3 separate regions of the Homo sapiens genome follow, and regions 1 and 3 are each linked to region 2. Evidence: fine-mapped expression QTL. A gene starts in region 2. Each other region holds a variant in brackets. All regions are shown on one strand. Distances are between the middles of the regions.

Region 1 (8,148 bases), 83 kb before region 2:
CTTTGCTTGGTTTTTATCAGTATTAAATTAGAAAGGTATAGAATTGCTTTGTAAATGTAAAGACTAAACAGAAGACATTAAAAATTATTCTAAAAAATCATTGTGCTTTAGTGACTAAAAAACTAAAACAAAAGTTGGCAGTTTGTCCAAAATAATAATGCATCAATAGAATAAATTCTGTGCATTGGTTTCACACAGACATGGGGTAGTTTTTGCATGTTAAATAGTCCCCTCTAGACAGGTTTTTTAGGACTTGCCTTCTCCCCTCCTGCTCTCATTTGTTCTAGTGATTTCAATAATTATAAAAATGCATGATGATCCCAAAAGTATATCAGAAAACTCCTGGTTTTACAGGCTTCACGTACCCACACCTGCTTCCCAAAAAATATTTTTAAAGAATCACTTGTACTCACACAGCTCCCTTGTCTCTACAGATTCTGAGGTGGCAGTGGGCATTCTTTTATAGATAAATCCTTAAAACTTCATTCTCATACACTTTCTCAGTCCTTCCTTCCTACCCCCATCCTCATCCTATTCCCCTTCTCTTGTGACTCAGACTATAGGTAATAGGTAAAAAGAAAAGAACTAACATTTGCTGAGTGTCTGCTACATAATGAGTACTATCCCAAGCCCTTTACTTGTGTTAGCTGATTTAATCCTCACAAAAACCCTATGAGTAGGTAAAATTGCTAAACCCATTTTCCAGATGAGGCAAAAGAGATTCAACATGTCAAATCATATGTCTGAGGTCACAGCCAGAGAGGGCTGCATGACAGCACCCAAGATCTCTAAACATCAGTAATTAACAAATAGCCCCAAGTTTTCTGTTCCTTTTGAAAAACACTTCATTCAGAATCAATTACAGACCAATATTTTGTTCCAGCTGCTTAGAATGTATAAATTTATTACTTCTTGAATAAAATTTACTGAAAGCATCTCACATTTTCCCCCATCTTAACATAAACATTGCACCATATGGAAGTATTCGTCTTGTACAGCCAAAAGTTGCAGTGGAGGGTTGGAGGAGGAATAAAAACTTGATCATAGTGGTCTTGGCGGAGTCAGCTATGATGTAAGGGAAGAGAAAGGCAAATTTCGCACGAAGATGATTTTCTCATCGTTACCCACAACACAAGTGGGCCTTTTCATATTTAAGAGGATCTGTCTCACTGTAGAGAGTTTTATAAAGAATTATTTTTTCCACAGAAGATTGGCAACATGCACATACGGATTTCAATTTCAAATTTGGTAAGGGAGGAGTTTAGAACCAGGAATGGACAAATAGTGTGTGTTCATTTGACCTGCAGTCCTGTCACCAGAGTGGGCATCAACAGTTATTTATCTTACAGTCCCTCACACTCCCCATGTCCCTCAGGCCTCGTTATCTTCCCCCATGCAACCTTGTATTTGGTCGCCTTCATTTCTAGTTGCTCGAAGGAACTGGCAGTCATCCTAATGACTCCTCCCTCACCCCCCACTCCCACCCATTTAATTATTTGCCAGTTTCTTCCCATGCTGTCTTCTGAATCTCTCATATTTGCCCTTCCTCTCTTTCCCTACCACCCCTCTAGAATTTAGACCCTCTTTTAGCCTTCACCAGCACCACTCAGGAGCCTCCTGCCCAAATGATCTTCCTGTTTTTCATTAGGTCCTCATCTAACCCATCTTTCATTCTGTCATCAGAGTTGGCCTTCTAAAGTCAAAATCTGTCATTTCATTCTTTTGCCTAGAGCCTTCCAGAAGCTCTATGTCAGTACTCATGCGTTTATGTGGCAATTGAGGACATCCAGGATTCGGCCTTTCCCTGTGTTTCATGCTGTAACTCCTGCTGATCTGGCACATGCTTCTGAGGCTCAGCCACTACTATGTTCTTTGGCACCTGAATGGCTTTGCACATGTTGTCCCCTCTTCCACCCTTGTCTGCTTGGAAAATTCCTATTTGATTTTGGAAACAGGAATCAATTTCACCTTCCCAGGCAGACAGTCTCCGCTTCGATAGTTGCTTACATATCTCTCAATTATAGCCTCCTTTTATGTTGCGTTATGATTGTATACACATGAATGGCTTGTGGGCCAGTGGTGTGTGCCCATGTGTGTACATGCATGTTTCCTCACTAGGGTGTAGATTGTAAAAACTAAAGAGCATTGGGTTCAGTAAATATTCAGTAAGTTTGTTTAATAAATTAGAGGAGCCATGTTCTATTCACATTTGTATTCCTAGACCCTAGCCCTGAGAAAGGGTTTAAAAAGAGGCGTATTCAATCTTTGGCAGAGGGAGGGAATGAAACAGGCAAGGATGAAGAATGGATGGGAAAAGAATGAGGTGTGAGAAGTGCTTCTGCCTCGCAGATGGAAAGGAGGATCGTTAGTACTGAAGGTTGGTCTGCATCCAGGCTGCTTTACCTCTTCTCTGTGGGGATTTATTCACAGCTAACTGTGATGGCTCAAGGAGGAGGCAGGATTATCTGTGCTATTCCTGGCAGGGCACAGCAAGTTCTAAGCCACCATGACATCCTCAGGTACTTGCCTCCTGTCCTGTTGGACTTGATACTGGGAAGGTCATGTGACCCTGACTTACCAAAGATCTGAGAGATGTCTAGCATGGGGATTCTTAACCTAGGCGGGATGTCTGTGAACTCCCTCAAATTTTATGCAGCATGCTTTGCTTATACTCGTACATTTTTCTGTGGAGAGAATCCATAAATTAGACTCAATTCGAGGATACTGGGTACAGCTAGTAATTCCTTCATCTCCCAGGATAACTGTCTAAAATTGGGCCATTCATACTTGAAAACCAGGACATAACTCTCACACATTCACACACACACAGTACCAAATAAAACCAACCCAACTAAAACCTTTCATACACTGTCTACCATTTAATCTTAGGCAATCAGTCATATTGCTTTGTAGTCAGACCTTAGTATTTATTCTTTGAAAGATTATGGCTTTCTGTCCCATTAAAAAAACAAGAGGTCAGCTTCACAGCCATATGAAGGCAGAAAAAAAAGTGTGAGCATTTTTCTTAATGTGATCTAAGAACAAATATGAGACTTGAGCCAACTTGAGACAAGCTTTAAAGAATCAACATGACTATCTCAGGCATGAGATAGTGTTTAATAATCAGTGAGTCAGATGGGGCAGGAGAAAGGCAAGGTGTACAGGTACACAAACAGCCTGGGTCAGTAGCCCCCCAGAGGTGATATGCCTCATTCATTTGTGAGACTTATTGTGAAGAGATCAAGAAGTTGGAGAGGGTTGTTTACAGACACATTTTGAAAACCATCTTTCTGGAATAAGGCACATGTAACTTTAATTTTTGATTAATACCCTCACCAAAGAAGAGAGAGGAGGACCAGGCCATGGGAGAAGTGCCTGAAGACAGGAGATCTTTGTGTGTGGGGTGTGCGTGTGTTGAAGTATGTAGCTGCAGGAGGAACTTTCAGGGCAAAGAGTGGAGAAACTGCCATTCTAAGTAGTTTTCTGAATTATCAGTTTATACTACTGTCTTCACATTTTTTAATAAAAGCATTTTAAAAGATACTTCACCTGCCCCCAGTAGTAATAATACTCTAATGAAACTTTTGGAAATGCTTATTTTTAATGGTAGATTAAAAATAGCCACCGGGCGCGGTGGCTCACGCCTGTAATCCCAGCACTTTGGGAGGCCGAGGCGGGTGGATCACGAGGTCAGGAGATCGAGACCATCCTGGCTAACACGGTGAAACCCCGTCTCTAATAAAAATACAAAAAATTAGCCGGACGTCGTGGCGGGTGCCTGTAGTCCCAGCTACTCGGGAGGCTGAGGCAGGAGAATGGCGTGAACCCGGGAGGCGGAGCTTGCAGTGAGCCAAGATCGCGCCACTGCACTCCAGCCTGGGCAACAGAGCGAGACTCCGTCTCAAAAAAAAAAAAAAAAAAAAAATAGCCACAAGCTCATTGACACTTCTCTCCCCTTAAATCTGAGCAGGCTTGGTGACATCTAGACCAACAGAACATGGCAGAAATGATGTTTTTCAAGTCACCAGGCCCAGACCTTAAGAGAATTGCACCTCCTTTCTTTCTCTTGGGACACTTGTTCTTGAATCCTGGCTGCCATGCTATGAGGAAGCCCAAGCAGCCCCATGGAGAGGCCCACTTGGAGAGGAATTAAGGCCCCTAGCCAACAACCCCAAAAGAGCTCCCACAGCTGTCAGCTGGAAGCAACATGTTATTGAGCCATCTTGGAAAACAGATCCTTCAGTTACAGTTGAGTCACATCAGCTCTTGTCACATGAAGCAGAGATGAGCCAATCCCAACAGTGCCCTGCCCAAACTGTGGATTAATGAACAAAATAAATGATTATTGTCATTTGAAGCTACTAAGTTGTGGGATTGTTTATTATACAGAAATGTGTAACTGCAACAACTTAAAAGATAAAATTATTCAACCATTCAATTTGTGCTAATTCAAATATTAGCACAAACAGTACTAATATTTTGATGAATTACCTTCAATTTTTTTCTTTTTTATATAGTTTTCAGATTTATTTTCTCTTCTCAAAAATAGAATTATTATATTTATGAACAATGTGTATTTTTCACTTATAAAATAAGCATGCAAATTTTCCATA[A/T]TATAAACCTCATATATAATCTTAGTAGCTACATAGTAGCTCATTATATACATATATATTCTAAACTATTATCCTATTGGAAATACAGATTATTTTCAAATTTGCTATTATAAGCAATGCTGCTTTGGATAGTTTATGTTGAATTCTTTTCTTAGAATTGGTAAGTAACCCAAAATGGAATTATGCGGGGTCAAAAAGTATGACTCATTTGTTAGATAGGGCCATTGCAATCCTGATTATCAGTAGGTGCCCAATTGGAGAGGACAAAGATGATTCTGGGAAATATTTCTAGTTTACTGGGTTGAACAGTGTTCCCTTAAATTCATGTCCACTGTTAAAAAGCTTAGCTGAATTAAAAGAGTTTAATTGAGCAAAGAATGATTCATTAATCGTGCAGCCTCCCAAGCCAGAGTAGGCTTAGGAACTCCAGCGCAGCCATGTGGTAGAAGATTTATAGACAGGAAAAGGAAAGTAATGCACAGAAAATGGAAATGTACAGAAACAGCCGGATTGGTTATAGCTTGGTGAATGCCCTATTTGAACACAGGTTGAAGAGTTGGACATCTTTGGCCAAAACTTGGTGATTTGTACAAGAGTAGGCTACAGTCTGTATACAACTCCATATAGGTTATAGTTCATGATGTACAGAGAAATCTTTAGGCTGAACTTAAAATACGTAAGGAGGCAGCTTTAGGCTAAACTGGATTTAACCATTCCCTCCATTTGGTAACCCTCTCAATTTTGAGAGATTCACCAAAACTTTAGTCATTGATGTCCCTATCACCATTGTAAATGTACTTATTTGGTCTTGAAACCCACTGAGAAATAGCACAACAGTAGGTTGTGTAAGGCGAAAACAAAGACCTGAGGTTATTATTATTTTTTTTTTGTAAGGGTTAAAGTAGAGGGTACCTCCTTATGCTGGAACTTTCTGTTTACAGGAGAAAAACAAAACCCACCTGTTCTAGGATCTATGTGTTTCCTGAAGTCTTAGTTTGATTATGTCACATTTGGCATGAGTGACTCCATTTTAGTTTGGTCTGGTCTGTTGGGGCTTAGAGCATGAGCCCAGTCCAAAACAATGGCCTCCCATAACTTTGTTTAAAAATTACCCCCTTCTGGTCAGGTTCTCATATAAGAGTGTGACCCAAATTTAAGGCCTTAATGTCACTCTCAGTTATTTTTTTTTAATTTTTATTTTTTTTAGGCTGGGCGTGGTGGCTCACGCCTGTAATCCCAGCACTTTGGGAGGCCGAGGCGGGCGGATCACGAGGTCAGGAGTTCGAGACCAGCAGCCTGGCCAACATAGTGAAATCTTGTCTCTACTAAAAATTAGTCAGGCGTGGTGGCAGGCGCCTCTAGTCGCAGCTGCCTGGGAGGCTGAGGCAGGAGAATTGCTTGAACCCGGGAGGCAGAAGGTGCGGTGAGCTGCCGAGATCACGCCACTGCACTCCAGCCTGGGCAACAAGAGTGAAACTCCATCTCAAAAAAAAAAAAAATTATTTTTTGAGACGAAGTCTCACTCTGTCACCCAGGCTGGAGTGCAGTGGCATGATCTCGGCTCACTGCAACCTCTGGCTCCCGGGTTCAAGCAATTCCCTGCCTCAGTCTCCCATGTAGCTGGGATTACAGGCGCCTGCCACCATGCCTAGCTAATTTTTGTACTTTTAGTAACGATGGGGTTTCACCATCTTGGCCAGGCTGGTCTTGAACTCCTGACCTCATGATCCACCTGCCTCGGCCTCCTAAAGTGCTGGGATTACAGGTGTGAGCCACCGCGCCCAGCCCACTCTCAGTTATTGTACCATCATTTTGGGTTTCCTGTCTCAGCACGTAATTCATAGTTTATGATGTCCTCATGGTCACACATTTCTTTTAGCTCTTATCCAGTTGAAGAAAGATCATTTGACATTCTAAAGATGTCTGCATGCAAACATTTAGAACTGTTGAGAGAATACAGCACACCAGGGAGACTATTATGACTATGAGGAGGACAATACCAAGAGTTTGCAGTATGCGCCTTAGCCAGTGTCCCCATAAAGCAAACCACCTAAAATCAAATAAAGAAGGAGCTAGATAAATAATCTACTCACTTTAAGCAGTCTCTTTGTTAATCCCCTACCACTGAACTTCTATAATACCTGATGTGATGTGTTTCTCCATGGGCAACAAGAAGTGCCAGCAGCTGCACAGATATTTCTCTGTTTAGCCAATAAGTAATGTAGAGCAATTATATTATTTAGCATAACTTTCACAAGATAACCTAAAGTCCATTGTGTAACCACAGCCTTTACAGTAGAATCTGCCATAGAGCCTATCATGAGGGCTAAATTTCTAGTTATTGCCCCATTTACTCCAAACCATGAAAAAAACCACCTAACAAATGATGTCTTTCTAGAGCAGTGAAGACCTCCTGGCAATGTTCTCTTTAACCTATGATGTAGGTTAAGAGGAGTGGACCAATGTTCTGTTTCTGACTGATTATGAGGCAATGTCTGTACCCTTAAAATTTCTCACCTACATTGGACCTTCCATCTGTCTAGACATAAGGTTATCCATATAGAAGGCTGGCTGCAAAATCCTTCCCAAGAAAAATTATGCCCCACGAGTGCACACAACAGACCCCCTTTTCACTTCTATTGTTTGCAGAGGCCTAAGCAAGAGGGAAAAACGGAAAGATAAGAGTCTCATGATAGTAGAGAAATCTTGATCTGTGATCTTGGGAAAAAGCTGTCTACATAAAGGATGCCATCTTCTTCTGGGGAGAAACTTCCCTGGTTAGCTTTACTTTAAGGATTCCAGTGGGTGTATAGTTCCAAGAGTGTAGAGGGACCCCTCTGACTTGTGAGATTGTGAACCCAAGGTTCAAGGTCCTGAAGTTTTGCTACTGTGTGGATGGCAAGGGCAGTCTTTCTCTGATGTTCTCAGGAGATCCAATCTTTGCATTCTAGATTGTGAAGGTGTTGATTGTCTTCAGTCAGTGAAGCATGAAAAGATTTCTTTACCTGGTGAAAATACACTGTTGCATAATGAGCTAGTGTATAACATCAACCCTCTTGCATGGGAAAGCTTTTATACAACCAGAAAACATGCATTGAAAATGACAATTGAATGAAATCCCTCTATAAATGTTTAAATGGCCCATCAGGGAGCAGAATGTACCTGAAGTTTTGAATGTCTTCCTAGGAATATGGGTTTGACAATCAGGTAGCAAAATATATCTGAAGTTTTGATTGTCTTCCCAGGAATGTGGGTTTGACAAACCAAACACTGGTCATAAACTATTTTGACAATTTAGAAATCATCACACCGATACATATATTTAATTTGGATTACTTTATCTTTTCCATGATGAGTCATGGAATGCAGAATTTTTAATGACAAAAGCTTTAAGGACTCAGGAAGGATAAGGCAGTCATCCTGGTTCTCCATGAGTCCATCCTTAACATTGAACTTATGTCTTCTTGAATACCAGTTGTTTCTCCAATTTAGGTGCATAGCACTGATAACCGATGGGTTATCATGAGTAATTTGA
Region 2 (8,180 bases):
CTAATCCCAGGGTTCGTCTCCAGGGCACTAGTGACCTAGAGAGAATCTCCTCAAGCGGAATCTGCGAGATTCGTGCAGTCGATTATCCTATCCCCTCGACCGGCTCCATAAAACGGTTCTTAGGAAAAACTCGATTTTTTTTTTCCCATGCGGGAGGGAAATGCAAAACCCAGGTTAATGCAAAAACCTCAGTGCCTTTCCTAGCCATTAGTTCACAGGCACCCCCGCCTCCATTCCAGGGTTCCAGTCCTCATCTCTACCCGGAACCCCACTCCCTGTCCCGGTGCAGGCAACCCGGGGAAGCCTTTAATTCGGCCGCCACCTCCCACCTCTGCAGAGACTAATGCATTTTACATCTCCTGAGCGTCTGTTTGTTCGCTATGCAGCTGTTGGGCTCGAGAGGGTGTAGGGACTAGAAACTCCTAGTGACCTGCAGCACCGAGCGCCTCTTGCCTCGCGGGCTGGTTTGCAAACTCGGGAAAAAGCTAGGTTCTGGGTCGCGATGTGCAGACACAGGAAAACTGCACCAGGCCATGCAAAATGAGCCCAGAAAGGTACTTTGGCAGCTAGGACCTGGGGAACGCGAGCTTCCCCCCTCAAGCCCCCCGCCGGTGCCAGCTCCCGGGTGCGTGCGAAATGGCTGGCGGTCCGACCGGAGGAGCATGGAGGCGCGGGGTTAATGCGCCATTCCAAATCGCGGTGCCCGCCAGCAGGAAGCCACAGAGGCACTAGATTTCCCTTCCGTCTTAAGAGGGTTTTCCCTTTTTTCCTGCTTGGCCGACGGAGGGCTTTTTAAATTGGACGTGGAGATCCTCAATTAGAAGTGTGGCGAAGCTGGCAAAAGACTACACAGTGGAAAACTCCCCGCGTCGCCAGAGGAGGCTCCCGGCTGCGGTTCCCGCCCTCGGCCGAGCGCCGCCAGCGCCCGGATCGAGCTCCCCTCTTCCCCCGGGACAGGGAGGGCGCATTCTTCCCTCTGAGCGCCGCCGGGACCGGCTCCAGTCCGAGGGGCTCTTTCGTTCTCGGTATTTGCTGGGCGGGGGAAAAGGGGGGAGGTTGGGGGACTCGGCACACACAGCGTCTACTAGGACGTTTTTCTTAGAGTCCGTGTGGGCTCCACCCCTCGGCTTCTCAGTTTGTCTCTCTATCGCTTTCCCAAAACACATCTACATCTGCCCGACGCGCTTCTCCTCAACCATGGGCCTTTGCCCGCGGTGCAAACTGCTTTACGCGCCGCCACGTGCGAGAACCAAGCTCTGCTCCTCAAGTGACGGGGGCTCTGCTCTGCCAGGTGACCGCGCACCATTTCTCGTGCCTGGCAAGCTGGTCCCCTTCTGGGTCCGGGACCACCACGTCCCGGCAGGGCAAAAGCAGCAGGCCGTGGGCGCCGGCACCTGTGGGTCCCCAGGCCTGGGGAGGCAAGGACGCCCAGGAAAGCCACAGAAGTGCTCGCAGAAGCAGCCGCTCGCCGCGAGGCACTTCTGAGTTCCCGGCAGCAGGGGGCACCAGAAACCGTCTGAGCCGTGTCGCGCCCACGCGGCCCGGAGGCTGTGTTATCATTTTAGTTATAAAACCGGAGAACCACCACTCCCTCTACGAGCCTCCCGAAATCCCATTAGCCCGGGAACCTGTGGAGGTCCTTACTGGCATCTCTGCTTTTCAGGCTCCCACCCCTCCATTCTCGCTGGTTTTCCTCTCCCCACTTCACCTGAGCGGGTTTCTTGGCAACCTGCTTTCAGACCATCCCTCACCCCTTCCACGCGTCACCGTGACAGATTCGCAGGAGGCAGCGCTCCCGCCGTCAGTGCCCCCGCACCTTCTTGTGCCTGGCAGGCTGGGAGGTTTGTTTGGGCTTTGCCTTCAAGATCCAGGTCTCAGAGAGAGAAAAAGGAGGCGGTGGGGCGGGGAGACGGGTTTGCTATAAACTCGGTTTTTTTTTTTTTTTTTTTGGCGGGGGGAGGTAGAGACAGAAATTGCTGGAAGATCTATTGCTTTTCTTAACTATGCTTCGTGTCCTTGACTGACAGAGGACTTATTCTCCCCTCAACCCCCCATAACTGCGGGGCCCAAGATGAGGGAAGGAAAAAGAATTTGGGACACTTCTCGCAGGCAAACTGGGAAAGCGGTCTGTTTAAAGGGCCAGGTTCCAGGCCCGAGAGCACCCGAATTGCTAGCGGGAAAGGGCTAGGGACACGGCGGACTTCCCAGAGATCGGACACTTGTTACTTGTTGAAAAGGCGCCACCTTCCCTGACAAAGCGAAGGCGCAGCGAAACAGTACGAGTTTGGTCGAGGCCGGCTTTGACGGCTTTGCGGGACTGGGTGCGTGAATGAGGTTGGAAGAAACATCTCTTCCTTGAAATACCTAAGCATATATTCCAAACACTGAGCAAGAGTCGAGCGCGTTCTAACATCTCCGCAGCAGGGGCCGGAAGAGTTGCCTTTGTCCCCGCCTATGAGCAGAAGGGTCGCGAGCTCTGGGATGGGTAAGCCCCCCGGGGGCGCGCACATGGGTCCTGGCGGCGGATTCTACCAAAGCCGAAACTAGCTGGGCCCCAGGAAGCTGGCGGGAACCCGCGAAAGTCCGTTTCCAGCCCGAAGAGGGTTCGTTTTTCTTCGTTGGGGCAGGAAACAAACCACCAGTGCGGAATTAGCCTCGAGGTGGTGTAAAGTAGTGGCAGTGGTGGTGGGGTGTTTTTGGAAGGCGGCACAGAGTACAGGAGAAAAAGGGGTCATTAAAATAATAACCTCAATGGCCTAGTGGAGTCTCAAGAATACGTTCGAGACAGAGATTTGAATCCAGGACTGGCAAGAAAGCCCCTCTCCTAACCTCGACGGGGATGGTTAGTTGGGGTGGAGGGCGTTAGGAACGTGCAGGCAACCGGGTGAGGAATGTAGCTTTGCCAGACCTCGCCCGGAGGAGGTGAGCCCTCCATTTTTAGGTTCTCAGCACCTTTGCAGCAGCCCCTCCCCCGGCCTGCGCTTTTCCTTGGCACAGATCAAAACAAGCTCAATAGTAAGTTGCACTCTTGGCAATGATAGTATCTCTGCACGTCCAGAGAGGACACATTTCGACGGCGGTGGGTTCGAAGATGACCCAAGCCCTGAATCGTTCTGTGACTTGACGGAAGAGCACCTGGCCGAGTCGGGGAAGGAAACTGCCCCTCTTGGGCATTCCGGGTCCAGGCGCATCTGGGGCTCCACAGATCTTTGCCCACGTGGAAAAGGCAACATGCCCCTCCGAAAGGCCGGCCTCTCTCCGGTTCTACTTTTCTCTCTCCTCGCATAGCTTAGGTTCCCTCTAGTCTTTCCACTTTCTACTCTCACCGTTTGCTCTGGGGTCCAGACGCACCCCTCTGACTAGGGCGCCCTTCAGCCGGCCGCACCCACCCGCGACGCAGGCACCACCCGCTCCCTGCTCCCCGGCCCGCTCCCTCACTTACCTCGGATCGGGTCTCCGCAGACCCTAGGTTGGACATTAACTCCAGGTGCCCCAAGTCCCAGCCAGGAGACCCATCCGGGCTGATGGCTGGAGCGCGGAGCCCCGCCCAACAGGTCAGGGGCAAGAGTTCGCAATCCTGGGGTCGCGCGGGGCAGCAAGGGCGCGCTGGAGGCGGCGGCCAAGACTCCCGCCGCCGCCGCCGCCAACAGGGCGAGGGCTGCCGGCAACTCTCCCGCCGGGCCCCCGCACCCCCAGAAGCCGAGGTCCGAGCAGCCGCCGCTGCTTTGGGTGGGGGGCTGACAGGGCTGCGCGCGTCGCGCTCTTGGCTGGGGCTGCGCGGGCCCGGGGCGCTGCGGGCGGCTCAGCGGCAGCTGCCGCGCTCTGCGCCTCCTCTGGGCGCACTGCCTGGGAGCACGAGACTGGTTTGTCTGATGCTGCTGCCGGAGCTGAGGTCTTGCCTGGAGATCCGAACGAGACACCACGTCAACCGGCGCGGGGAGTCCCGTGAAGACATGAGGGCGCCAGGAGCGCAGGCTGGTCTTCTAGAGCCCGGGCTGGGGGTCCGGGGTCCGGGGTGGGGGAGGGGAGGCGCGGGGCCCCGGGAGGGAGGGGTCGGGAGGCGTCGGCTGGGCCTGGCGGTGGGGGAGGAGAGGAGAGCAGCGAGGAGGCCCTGGAGTTCCCGAGGCGGGGGGCCGGGGTGCGAGTGGGCGACGCGAGGCGCCCCTCCCTGGGCTGCAGGGAGAGCGCTGAGAGCGCGGAGACGCCGCGGGGCTAGCGCCTTCTCCTCTCCGGGTGGATCAAAAATCGAGAGGAATGTGCGGCGCTCTGCGCGGGCCAGCCGAAAGGGGCAATCCGAACTTGACCGCGGCGCCCGCGCCGGGCTTTGCCCCCGCGCGCCGCACTGGGAGGGTGGCGCTCTGCCGGTGCAGGGCAGCGCCGGGCTTTCCTCGCGCCTGTCGAAGGCCGGCCTTCCCGCTCGGGTGTCTCGCCCTCTCGCTTCTCCGCAGGGCAGGAGGCAGTGGCGAGAAAAGGAGCTGCCGGCCGGAGTTCTAGCACCGAGAAGGAGAGGTGCGGAGCGGCCGGGTGAGGGAAGCCGAGTATTTGCCAGGGGACGCTGCGAGTGGGGATGAATTTATAGGGCTCTCACTCCGTGACGTGCCCTCCAGTGGCTTTTCTGATTCGCTTTCTGACCTAAACACACATTAGTTTAGTCCCCATGCTAAGGCCAACACGGTCTCCAAATATCTGCTGGCTGAAGTCAGAGGCTTTGCATATCATGTATTACATGGCAGGCAATGAAGAAGGCTTCTGAGGCTGGCCGGCTCCTCAGTCCTAGGCTCCATTTTCATGCTGTTGTAATCTAATACCAGACATGGGGCAGGCACATACATTCAAAATCCCAATTCCAGAGGCGTAAGATCACTTTATCAGGAACGGGTTAGGGGAGGTTGAGCTAAACCTGCTTTTATCCAGATTTTCGAAAATGCAGATGGGAAACTTCAGCAAGCGCCCACTTGGATGCTGAGTTTCCAGCGATCAGGGGCCCGGCCCCCATTCCAGAGCTCTGTGGATGGGAGAGGTGAGACCTTCTGGGCATTCCTTTTGTTGGTTAGTTCACCACCAGAAGCTGCCTGAGCCTTCTTTTGTAGAGGACAGGAGGAGGGCAAGTCCTTACACACCCTGTGCATGGCTATAACCATAAATACATTTCATTCACATGGGGCATGGAATTGGCTGTACCTCTAAAATAATGTACTAAATAGGGCATGTCTTTGCTAAGCAGAAACCTGTTTTCCGGAAGCCATTGGACCTGAATTCAGTGGGACCTCTTTTATTTTATTAGCTGGGGCCAGGGAAAGTGTAAACAGGCTCAGTTTACGTCCATGTACCTCTTATTTTATGACTCATCCGGTTGTTGGGGAGTATGTGTTCTTCAAGTAGCTGATACAGACAATAGGCAGGGGAAATGCGTGTGGCAGTGTGGGGGGAAGATCATGTATTATTAAACTTCTTAAAAGTCAAAGATCAGCTACTTTGCAGGTTTGTCAGTGAAGCGAGTGTGGGAGGAAAATTGTTCTTACTAACGTTGCTGTGATTTAAGATTAAGCGAAGTGAAAATCGAGTCATCAAAACATACCTTAGCTGAAATTAGGATGCTCTCTGGAGTTCTGCAGAAAATGACATTTCCCTCTTTGATAGATTTATGGTAGAAATGTAGTTAGATTCAGAAATTAGAGGGCAGAATAAGCTTAATATATTTATTGCCGTTTAGCATTGTTTTTGGAATTTGAAGACGACCCTCATCAATGTTCTTACTCTGAATGATTTCTTTATTTTTAGAGGGCTTTTTGCTGGGGATGATCAGCCCGTCCAAGCACCTGCAAATATCTAGCACTTGCTGTGTGCCAGGCAAAGTGCTAGGCCCTGGGCATTGTGCTGATTGGGCTTTTTTTTTGGGCGGGGGGCGGGGGTTGCAAGGAACAGATACCACTGAGGTTTACCCTCAGTAATGGGAATTTACTGTGGAAGGAAGGCTGACCGGAATCTCCACCATTCCGCCACGTGTCTCCGAAAAGCCTTCCGGAAAGGCCACCCAGCCAGGCCTCATGAAAACTGGATTGAAGTTCAGGAACTGGAAGGTCATTCAGGATACAGCTCTGTGACTGGGTTATCTCGCTGCCCCCTCAGCAGCAGGCATCTGCCGATCCCCACTAACGGCTTAGCCGCCAAGGTGATTCAGCTCCTCTCTCGCTGTTTTCCCCTGGGTGTCCTTTGGCTTCTGCTCCTGCTACCAACTGCTCAGCTCTCAGTTGATCTCACATTTAAACTCCTTTAGTGAAAGGATCTAGTTTGTCCTGCTAGGGATTCACCAGGGGTGAGAGTTGGACTGAGCCTTTGTATCAGTCTCCTTACAGGTTGCAAAACACCCTGTATATCCGCAGACCTGGGGGCAGGTGCCTATCCTGGGCCAATCATTCATGTCCAGGTTGTTGGCATCACAGAGTACACAGCCTGGCCACCTTTGCTTGAGATACTTCCTAGAGTTCCTCCCCACATTCCCTCCACAGAGGATGGTCCCTCAGAAGGAGGTGGGTTAATGGTAGGCACTTTGGGTTTTGACAGTCCTCTCCCAGCCCTTCAGAAACTACCACTACAGAGAGGGAGATATGCTCATGAGTATTGATGGTATAAAGTGATAAATACTCCAACAGAAGTATATATGAGACTCATGTCCTGGAGTCTGATTTTCACATGGCCAGTGAAACACTGGGGAGATTTCAAAAAATACCCAGACCTGTAGGCTGGAAGTGGTGGTGGCTCACACCCGTAATCCCAGCACTTTGGGAGGCTGAGGTGGGTGGATCACTTGGGGTCAGGAGTTTGAGATCAGCCTGGCCAACATGGCGAAACCCAGTCTCTACTAAAAATAGAAAAATTAGCTGGTTGTGGTGGTGGGCACCTGTAATCCCAGCTACTTGGGAGGTTGAGGCATGAGAATTGCTTGAACTTGAGAGGTGGAGATTACAGTGAGTAGTGATTGCACCACTGTACTCCAGCCTGGGTGACACAGTGGGACTCTGTCTCAAAAAAAAAAAAAAAAAAAAGTCCCAGACCTAGGCCTTGTTCAGGGCAATTAAATCAGAATCTCTTGAAGGGTGGAGCTCAGGAGTTGATTTTTCAGATGCTCCCAGGTTAGTGAATTGGCTTTATCTTTTCCCAGTGGTTGCAATCATCTTATGATTCTTTTTGAAAGCAAAATGAAGAAGCCCTATTTTGATAGGTTCTAAGACTAAGACTCTTCCAAAACATTAAATTCCTTTCAAAATACAAAGTATCTTAAAACAGTAATATAAAGGAAAATGTTAAATTTAATTTAGAATTAAAGCAAATATTTCTAATTTTGAAAGAACATTTATTTACATGGCTACAGCATACAGATGAATTCAGCAAAAGTTCCTTCTGAAGTGACTGCCTTGAATAGAGTTAAGATGGGAAGCAAACATTTGGTGTCTTGGGAACAAGGGGATGGCCTGATGTCACAGTCTCACGCCCCCATAAGCTGAAAGTAGGGAGCCCCACAGCTCCGAGGCTCCAGCTTCTCTGTTCTCAAGGAAACGGAATAGTTTGATTTGAAGCTGTTCCTCAGCGAAGTCCAGAAGGGAAGAATTTGCAGCACCGACTCTGCTCTCAATAGGCAGAACATCCTCTGATAAAGCAACAACAGCAACATACTGCTAAGGATTCTCACATTGTCCCCAGATCTCAGCTTTTTATCTAGGAAGCCCTGCCTGAGAATCAGAGAGAACAAACATTGTTCAAGCCTCCCATCTCCTCTTTGAGAAAAAAGGTTCGAAGCCCTGCTAATTTCCTATTTCATCGCTATCGTCCTCTTCACTGGGATTTCTTGTGAGTCTCTAACTGAAAGTTGTCTAAATGATCGGTGCAATTTGTGCCCAAGGATCTTACAGTCCTTGGGAAGAGAAAACACAACCATAAAATGATGAAAAATAATACAGGGTATTATAAGGTTATGGAACTCAAACTAGCCCTTGATTGGAGTAAGTAAGCAGAGAGGAGGTGGGGGTGAGGGGACATTCCAGGCTGGCTGAAAGGGTCGCTGGAGGAGACTGGATGCTAGGTACTGCCACATTCTTGCTCAGCCTCTGTGGCCCTGTAGGGCTGCAGCCTGTAGACGTGATGGGGTGGGTGGGTCAGCTTTTGGCCATTCACAGAGTCCT
Region 3 (8,180 bases), 31 kb before region 2:
ATTACACAAACCAATCAATTTCCTTTCATTGTCTCAGGCACTTTGAGTTGAGTTTCTGTTACCTGTAAGCCAGGGATTCCCAGTGGTCAGGCCGCAGACCAGTACTGGTCCATGGAAAAATTGTCTTCCATGAAACCAGTCCCTGGTGCTAAAAAGTTTGGAGACTGCTGCTGTAAGCCAAAGTCCTGACAAATACAGATGCTTTCTGAGCATCTGCTACCTAATTCTTCCATTAGAGATTCATTCCTTTGGCTCTAGAATAGCATTTTCCACATTTTGTCCAGCAGAACACTTCCGTTAGATGCCAACAGGCGCTCCTTGGTCAAATGAGGAGGCAGGTGCTCAGGGCTCTTCAGGATTTAAAGGTGAGCCAGACATGGCTCCTGCTCCTGCACTCAAGGAGCCCCTCAACTTAGCAGAGATCATAAGATCGGTGCATAACTTATTTACATATCTACAAAAAAAATCTAAAAGAAAAAGTTCTCATGTCATCAGCCTGACCCACACATAAAGCACTTTGGCTATAGAATCACAGTTAAGTGAGTGATAAATACCGCCACGGGAGTATTTGGAGCATTGAAGATGTGAGGGACAGTATTTCCAGCAGAGAAAATGGCTGGGGCAAGGGTACAACACTGAGAAATTGCCACAAGCTCAACATGTATTTTGAAGTTCTGTAGGACATCCACAGTGACTGAAGGGTTGAGTTTTGGTGTAAAAGGAAGATTTCGGGGACAAAAACCAAACAAGAACTAGAGAAAAGTTTTGTTTGGAACAGATTGTGGAGGTTCTGATTGGCAGTCTGAGTGATTTGATTGGCAGCAAGATCAGGTAACCCTGTGAGGAGGCCAATGCCGTGGTCTGGTCAAACCTTACTGCAGGACTGGGAAGGACTGGGTGGAAAAAGAAGGCTGGAGGTGGTTGGAATCCCAGCCTCCGAGAACATTCTGCAGAGAAACTTTGGCCATATTTGCTCAAGAATCTTCCTCGTGGTATCATTTGAAAGCCATACTTTTTATTTCATGCTAAACATTGTCAGAGGGAGCGGTGGCAGATTCATCCCGGAATGTGAGCCAACGCACCGGGCATGCACTTTAAATGGCATTCCAGACCTCGGGCTGGCAGGCTCCCTCAGATCCTCGCCCTGCACTGGTTCCTGCCTTACCCTGAGTTAGGATGTCAGGAGAGAGGGTCTGTTTTCTTACCTTCCCAGCAGAGAACATCCAGAATGAGACACCAACCCTCCCTATTTCACCTCGTAGAGATATCACTGCACGGGCGTCAGCCTCGGTGCTGTTCTGATGATGCATTTTCTCTTCTTCTCTCCTGTCCTCCTTATGCCTGATCTTTGGGTACACTGTGTCAGCACTGCTATCGCTACACCCCAGTCCAAGTTACCGTTATCACCCACATGGATTCTCACTTGGGCCTCCTAGCTAGTCTCCATGCTTCTGCTTTTGCCCCTGTACAGTCTGTCCTCAACAAAGCAGCTAGAATAATCCTTTAAAAACACACCCAGATCCTGTCTCCCTTTGTCTTAAAACCTTCGGATGGCTTCCTGTCTGATTCAGAATGAAATCCTAAATTGCCACCACGGCCGGAAAGACTCTACGTGATCTTGGCTGCCTTTTCAGCTTTATTTCTTCCCGCTCCCCCATCATTTTGGGCCTCTCTGCTTGCTTTTTTCCCCATCTCTACGGGACTGCTCTCTTCATGGCCCATAATGCACCTCTTCACAATAGAAGCTTGTGCCTGTCAGAATAGGCTAATATAGGCTGCAGTAACAAACAACCTCCAAATCTCAGTGGCTCAAAATAACAAAGGTTTATTCCTCAATTACCACGTTGTGCTGTGCCTGTTGTGGGTTGGCAGAGGGGCTCTGTTTACCATCAGCACTTGAAGTAGACAGAACTGCCGCCATCTTGAATATTGCCAGCTGCTGTCTCAGAGGAAAAGAAAGAGGCTTTGGAGGATCTCATAATGTCCACTAAACACAAGGCTCAGAATGTCACATTTCACTGGTCACTTCTGCTCATGCTCTTTGGCCAATCATTGGCCTCAGTCAACCACAAGGGAACTGAAACATACAATCTTACTATGTGCCGAGAAATGGACAGGATCTGTAATTGTGAAGTGAACTGCACTAATGATGACCACAACTGTGCCATGGCAGGGTCAGCCAGGTGGAGTGAGGGTAGAGGATGGTGGAGAGTGAGGCTGAGGGAGGAGGGTTGGTCATCTCAGCTCAAGCTCAGGGGGAAATGAGAACATGGTGGGAGAGATGTGGAGATGGTTAATGGGTATGAAAAGTAGTTAGAAAGGATGAATAAGACCTAGTATTTGATAGCACAATAGGGTGATTATAGTCAATAATAATTTAATTGTACATTTAAAAATAACTGAAAGAGTATAATTAGAATGTTTGTAACACAAAGGATAAATGCTTGAGGGGATGGATACCCTATGATGTGATTATTACACATCGTGTGCCTGTATCAAAGAATCTCTACCTTATAAATATATACACTTACTATATACCCACAAAAATTAAGAATTAAAAAATGTTTAAAAAAAAGAAATGTGAACATGCCTGTGTTTAATGCTCACTGGCCCAGTCTGATGTGCCATGTGTGAAAGAAATGATGTGTGAAAGAGAACTTGGCCATTTGTCGAGTCCTTCTGGCCAAGTGTGCCTTTCCACAAATGGTGGGTTGGGAAGATCCCCCTGGCCAGAAAGAATTCTGATGTGTGTAATTGTTCCGTTACAGATTCATTCCTTTGGCTCTAGAATAGCATTTTCCACATTTTGTCCAGCAGAACACTTCTGTTAGATGCCAACAGGTGCTCCTTGGTCAAATAAGATTGGGAGATGCTGGGTTAGACAAGATTAAACAGGGCTTCCCTCCACAGGCCTTCTCAGATCCTTGCTTCATATGGAATGTGTGATGTCGTTGCTGCTCCGTGAGAGGGGACTGAAGTATGTGACATTTCTCCCATGTTTAAGATCAAGGAATTCCAGCCTACACAGATGCTTCCTAGGGTTCCACCGGGCAGCTTGGGAAACGCTTGCAGCTTGGGAAACAGCCTTGCAGTCCTACTGAGTCTCCTGTGGGAAGCAAATGTTCCTGGTAGGCCAGTCTGTAGGAGAATGAGATCAGTGCAGACAAGGCCTTGAAAGCATGGGCTCGAGAGGGGCTGCAGAGGCGGTGGGTCTGAAAGGGGGGGGTGGATGTGAAGATCCAAAGTGATCCTTTTCCCAAGGAGCTTGGAGCCTGGCAGAGCAGAGCTCCCTGGTCCCCCACCTCATGGCTGCCTTTCTCCATGGGAGGCCTCTCTCCCCTCTCATTCCTCCCAGTGAAGCTTAGCCGCCCTGCCATCCAGAGCTCTGTCCTCTCCCCATCTCCACCTTCCCAAGCCAACAGCACCCCAGGCTGTGTCTGGGTGTCACGGCTGAGCTCTCAGTGTCCCTTCAGCCTGGAATGCCTTCCCCTCCCTCAAGCCCTCTCTGGGAAATTCCTACTCATCCTTTAATAGTTTAGGCAGCCACTTCCAGGAGGTAGTCCCTGATAGCATCACCCCGCCCCGACCTCCCCACCCGCCTCCCCTGCTCCCCAGGGTCAGCAGGATTCCTTGTCCCTCC[C/T]GGGAGCTCCATGACACCCTTCACTGCACGTCTTCATCGCTGCCCCTCCCCACGTTCTTATGCTCCATTTCTGTCCCTCTAATCTGGGAGCCCCTTGCAGCATTGTCTCTGTATCTTTACATTCTCCCCTGGCAGGAGATAGCTTCTCAGAAATTAATTAAATGAATGAGACCCAGACCCGGAGCAGGTGAGCAGGGAGTGGGTTAAAATCCCCTACATGTACCACTTTAAAGAGTTTCCCAAGTTAAAACAATCGATTCCACATGTTCTGAAACCTCATCCTTCTTCACCATTGCTCAGCTCTATGGTTCTCTGGTTTCCTGGAGGCTGAAGTCTTCTCTCCATCCCTCTCACGGTCTGCCCACCCCGTCCACTTTCCATCTGACGTGCTCTTCCCTCTGTTGCCATGCCCTTGGGCCACTGATTCATATTGTCGCTTCTCAGAAATCATGAATGAGCATTGGAATATCAATGGCATGGCCTTAAGTTTATGCTTCCCTAAGTAGAAAGTAAATGCAAATATCTTGAGAAAACAATCTAACTTGAAGAATGGAAAGAAGGGTTGTTTTTCCATCTCACTCTGTCACCCAGGCTGGAGTGCGGTAGCACTATCTCGGCTCACTGCAACCTCCGCCTCCTGGGTTCAAGCGATTCTTGTGCCTCAGCCTCCTGAGTGGCTGGGACTACAGATGTGCGCCACTATGCCTGGCTAATTTTTGTATTTTTAGTAGAGATGAGGTTTCACCATGTTGGCCAGGCTGGTCTTAAACTCCTGACCTCAGGTGATCCATCTGCCTCGGTCTCCCAAAGTGCTGGGATTTTTTTTTTTTAAGGACAAAGTTGGCTTTAATAATTCATGAAAAAGAGAAAACTAGAAGGAAACTGGAAGCAGAGGACACAGAAAATTTGCTGTTAGCAGTGCACCCAGGGCTGCATGATGACTCTTCATGGGCTCTGGGCTTTTTTGCCTCTGTGGGCCCCTTCTCCATTAAAATATATAACTGCATTGCTATAGACAAGTACAATCTAAGCTGGGTTAATTATTATATATGCATTATTGTTATATTTATTTTTCTTTTGATTTGAAAAATGTTTAAAAAGTTTTTGGGCCCCTAGGCACTGTGTTTGCTGTGTCTAATAGCTTAGCCCACTCTGAGCCCACCACCCTGCCCTTTTGACACTTTGGGTCGCACTGTTCCTCCTGCTTGGAGTGTCTGTCGTCCATCCCAGCCTGTGTTGACCTGGCCCACGTGACAGATTCCTACTCACTTGCAAGGTCCAGCTCCAATGTAACTTTCACCAAATTTAGCAAATTAAAATACAGCATGCCCACTTGGATTTGAACTTCAGACAAATTACAAATATATATTATTTGTTATAACAGGCATGAGTATGTTCCACATGTCTCATGTCCCACATGTTGCATGAGACATGCTTGTACTAAGAAATTGTGCGTGCTTATCTGAAATTCAGATTTAACTAGGTGTCCTGTATTTTCTCTGGCAACACTAATCTGTAGCTGTTTCTGATTTGTTTTCCTTCCGGCTCTTTATCCCACCTGCGGCTCTCTCTGAGGCATTTTAGCGCTCTCTCCACACCTCTCCCTGCACGTCTCGCTTTCGGGGTATCACGGACTCCTCCCTGCAGCTGCAGTCCCATCTTCATCCCACTCAGCTGCCGTGGCCAGGGACGTGACAGTGTATTCCTTGTCTTAGATGAGTAAATATGAGTAAATGTGTGCTTGCCCTTCGTTTCCCCAACTGTCTGTTTTCAGGGATGACTTGGCAGCATTTGGTTTTCATTTCATTCAGGATGTTGTGAGGCTGAGACTAAAGATGAGTTAACTATTGCCTGGGATTCCAGCAGCGCTTCCGTTAACAAACGTGTGTCCCAAGAAGACCCTTGGGGCTTTTTCATTACCTGATGGAAAAAAGCCATAGACCCTCGGCTAAAACCCACGCCCCCTCCTTGGGTGGACTATGAGTGGAGGCAACAGGATTCCCCCTCCCAAGGGATTCTGGTGTCAGCTAGTACATCAGCCGTGGCCAACGGAGGATCTTGTGTTCGAAGGGAAGGTCTTTGTTTTTCAGACGTAGGTTCAGGAAATTCTGATTTTCCACCTCTATCTCGGGAATGGATTGATTCTTTTAAAAGTTCACTTTAACCTACTTCACTCCACACTCACGGTCCCCCAGAGTGCCTCCTTAACACAGCAGAAAGTTGGCCTGAGATGATCTCATGGGCACAAGCCACATAAGGCGGTCGGGACCAGTATCCAAGCTCCTCACCCAGTGCTCTTCCACCCTTCTCTGCAGCGCGGATTTCAGAGCTGGAGGCCAACAGCATGGCCTTCCCTCTGGGGATCGCAGTGAGGGGTGGCGCGCACTCAGGGCTGCAGACCAGCAAAGCACCAGCCCAAGAAGGACGGGGGAGCAAGGTGCAGGCGCCCCCAGGCTGCTGGGGACTTCCCAGCTCTCAGCACATTCTCCTTTTCTTGGTTAAGGAAGTTTCTAAAGTTGACCACTGGTTAATCGTTTTGTTATTCATGCTGAGCAAGAAACCAGGGTCCAAATACCGTGTGTGTGTGTGTGTGTGTGTGTGTGTGTGTGTGTGTGTGTGTGTGTTGTGTGTTTGGGGAGGGGTGCCCTCCCAGTAGGGAGCTGCCCAGTAGTTTCTGCCTCTTATTAATCTCTAGTACAGCTCGTGACTCACCATGAAACTCACAGGAACACGCAAGATGGCCCAAAATAGTTTCCAGGGTGGTCACCAGGTGTGATGAGAAAGAAGACAAAACAATGAACCCATGGATCCATGGTCACGTCTACATGGGGAATTCTGCACACGACACCCTCCCCTGGACTGTGAAACAATCATTGGCCCAATAAAGGCTCTGATAAGCTCTACAGTTATATTTTAAACCTTAAAGCATGGGTTGATGCTATTTAACTCAGTATTTTCCAAAGTTATTTGATCAGAGAACCATCCTGTCCTCCTCCCTTTTTTTTTTTTTAAATTTGAGGAGCATCTCACTGGGTAAGTAATCCTGGACACACTTTGGGAAAATAGCTCTAAAAAGGGAGAGGAGGTAAGCAGGAGTTTTACCATCTTATGTTCCCGCTCCAAGTCACTGACTTTGGACTGGAATTTTGGCTTGGAGAAAACGCAGCTGGCCTCAGCACCACCCTGGAGCCTCTTCCAGCCAGTCCTGGCAGAAGGACTCTGAATGCCTGAACCCACAGGTTGGTACCCGTGACTCCACCAAGTCTCCACGCAGGGACGGCGTGCATCGGGAAGAGGGGGCATTTCAGGCAAAGGCTAGTGCAGCACAAATGCCATCCATGGGGCAGCCTAGGCTGGGGCCATGCAGAAGAGCCATAGAGCACCATGCAAGGCCGCCTTTTGATAGTCACAAGGCAGTCTGTGACGTGACTCAGTTTCATACAAGCTGCTTCTTCTGCCTGGGACGCTCCTGATCTGTTGGCACTGTTTCTTAACTTCGGTCTTAAAGTCATTTCTAATTAAAGCAAGCTCCCCTGTTAGTGTCTATATTATAGGATCCTGTTTGTATTCTTTTAGCGTTTCTCAACACAGGGATCACTACATATTTTACTTTTTTGAATGTTGTCTGTCTCCCCGCAAATAAAATAACTCCAGGAGGACAGCGGTTTTTGCTTTGGTCACCATTAGAGCCCTGGTGCCAGGAACAGTGCCTGGCACAGTGTAGGCACACCATAAGGGTTTGTTGAATGAATAAGAACAATTTTGCAAGTTTTGTCCCTCCTGAGTGGGTGATTGGTTGCTGGGAGTTGATAGGCAAGGCCACTGACCATCCAGTGGGCTGTGTGGTAAGAAGGGGGTGATTCCTAAGAAATACTTGTGGATGGCTGCCTGGCCCAGTGCATGCAAGGAAGTACAGAAGTACAGAGAGCAATAGAAATGAGTTTTTATTTGTAAAAAGTTACAAAATGATATTGTACAAAAATAAAGTCTGTAGAGAACTTTGGTTTTATAACACAAACGACCAAGACAGATCAGAGAAGTCAGAACTTCCAAACAAGTGCACTCCTTACGGTATCAGATGGTGATCGCAATGATAAAGAAAAATCACAAACTTTACCCTTTTGTGGATTTGGTGGAGCAACTTGCTTCCATTAAAACCTGCTTGTGGTGTGTAGGTGATGCCGGGAACGAGCTATTGACACCCCTTGGATCCTACAGCTTTTTTGGGCAGGGACTCTCCATGGGGAGTTGTTGGGGGGGGTCACTGAGGTTGAAGCCTGGGAACAGTGGCCATCGCACTGCCAAGGTTCTCTGAATGGGACAGATGCCCCTGGGGCCACATCCAAATTGTGCTCCACGAATGACTGGATGGCTGGGGTTTGTCACTGTTTCGAGCAGTCTGAATTCTCAGCAAGATCCCAAGACAGTGTGAGAGGGAAGGCCTTTCCTCCATTTCCCAGGCGAGCAAGGGGAGCAGAAAGGACAGAGAAGGGCAGAACCATGAAGAATTTGGGTATTTTGGGGGAAGGGGATCAGATGT

Alleles and levels. Alleles are on the strand shown, and positions count from the first base shown. SD is a standard deviation of normalised expression in the study named.
For the expression in fibroblasts of the gene that starts at base 3,977 in region 2, allele A in region 1 goes with a higher level than allele T (moderate effect, 0.59 SD a copy in GENCORD).
With allele C in place of T in region 3, the expression in tibial nerve of the gene that starts at base 3,977 in region 2 is higher (moderate effect, 0.56 SD a copy in GTEx).

What was found. PIP is the estimated chance that this variant, and not a neighbour inherited with it, causes the effect.
Region 1: its variant is fine-mapped to the expression of GDNF in fibroblasts (GENCORD, PIP 0.91).
Region 3: its variant is fine-mapped to the expression of GDNF in tibial nerve (GTEx, PIP 0.92).

What each region holds. Positions count from the first base shown.
Region 1 is chr5:37,753,339-37,761,486 of GRCh38, forward strand. WDR70 (WD repeat domain 70) reads left to right here. Exons shown (of 18, transcript NM_018034.4): 18 at 1-97. Among named protein-coding and RNA genes, the nearest start is that of GDNF-AS1, 82 kb to the right of the region's middle. RefSeq lists a silencer at 2,988-3,236. The variant A/T (reference allele first, on the strand shown) is at 4,614.
Region 2 is chr5:37,836,065-37,844,244 of GRCh38, forward strand. It overlaps GDNF (glial cell derived neurotrophic factor), which reads right to left and starts at 3,977. Exons shown (of 3, transcript NM_000514.4): 1 at 3,443-3,977. It overlaps GDNF-AS1 (GDNF antisense RNA 1), which reads left to right and starts at 3,820. Exons shown (of 4, transcript NR_145476.1): 1 at 3,820-3,974. RefSeq lists enhancers at 84-1,022, 1,374-1,443, 2,901-3,838.
Region 3 is chr5:37,805,110-37,813,289 of GRCh38, forward strand. GDNF (glial cell derived neurotrophic factor) reads right to left here. Exons shown (of 3, transcript NM_000514.4): 3 at 7,568-8,180. Among named protein-coding and RNA genes, the nearest start is that of GDNF-AS1, 31 kb to the right of the region's middle. The variant C/T (reference allele first, on the strand shown) is at 3,641.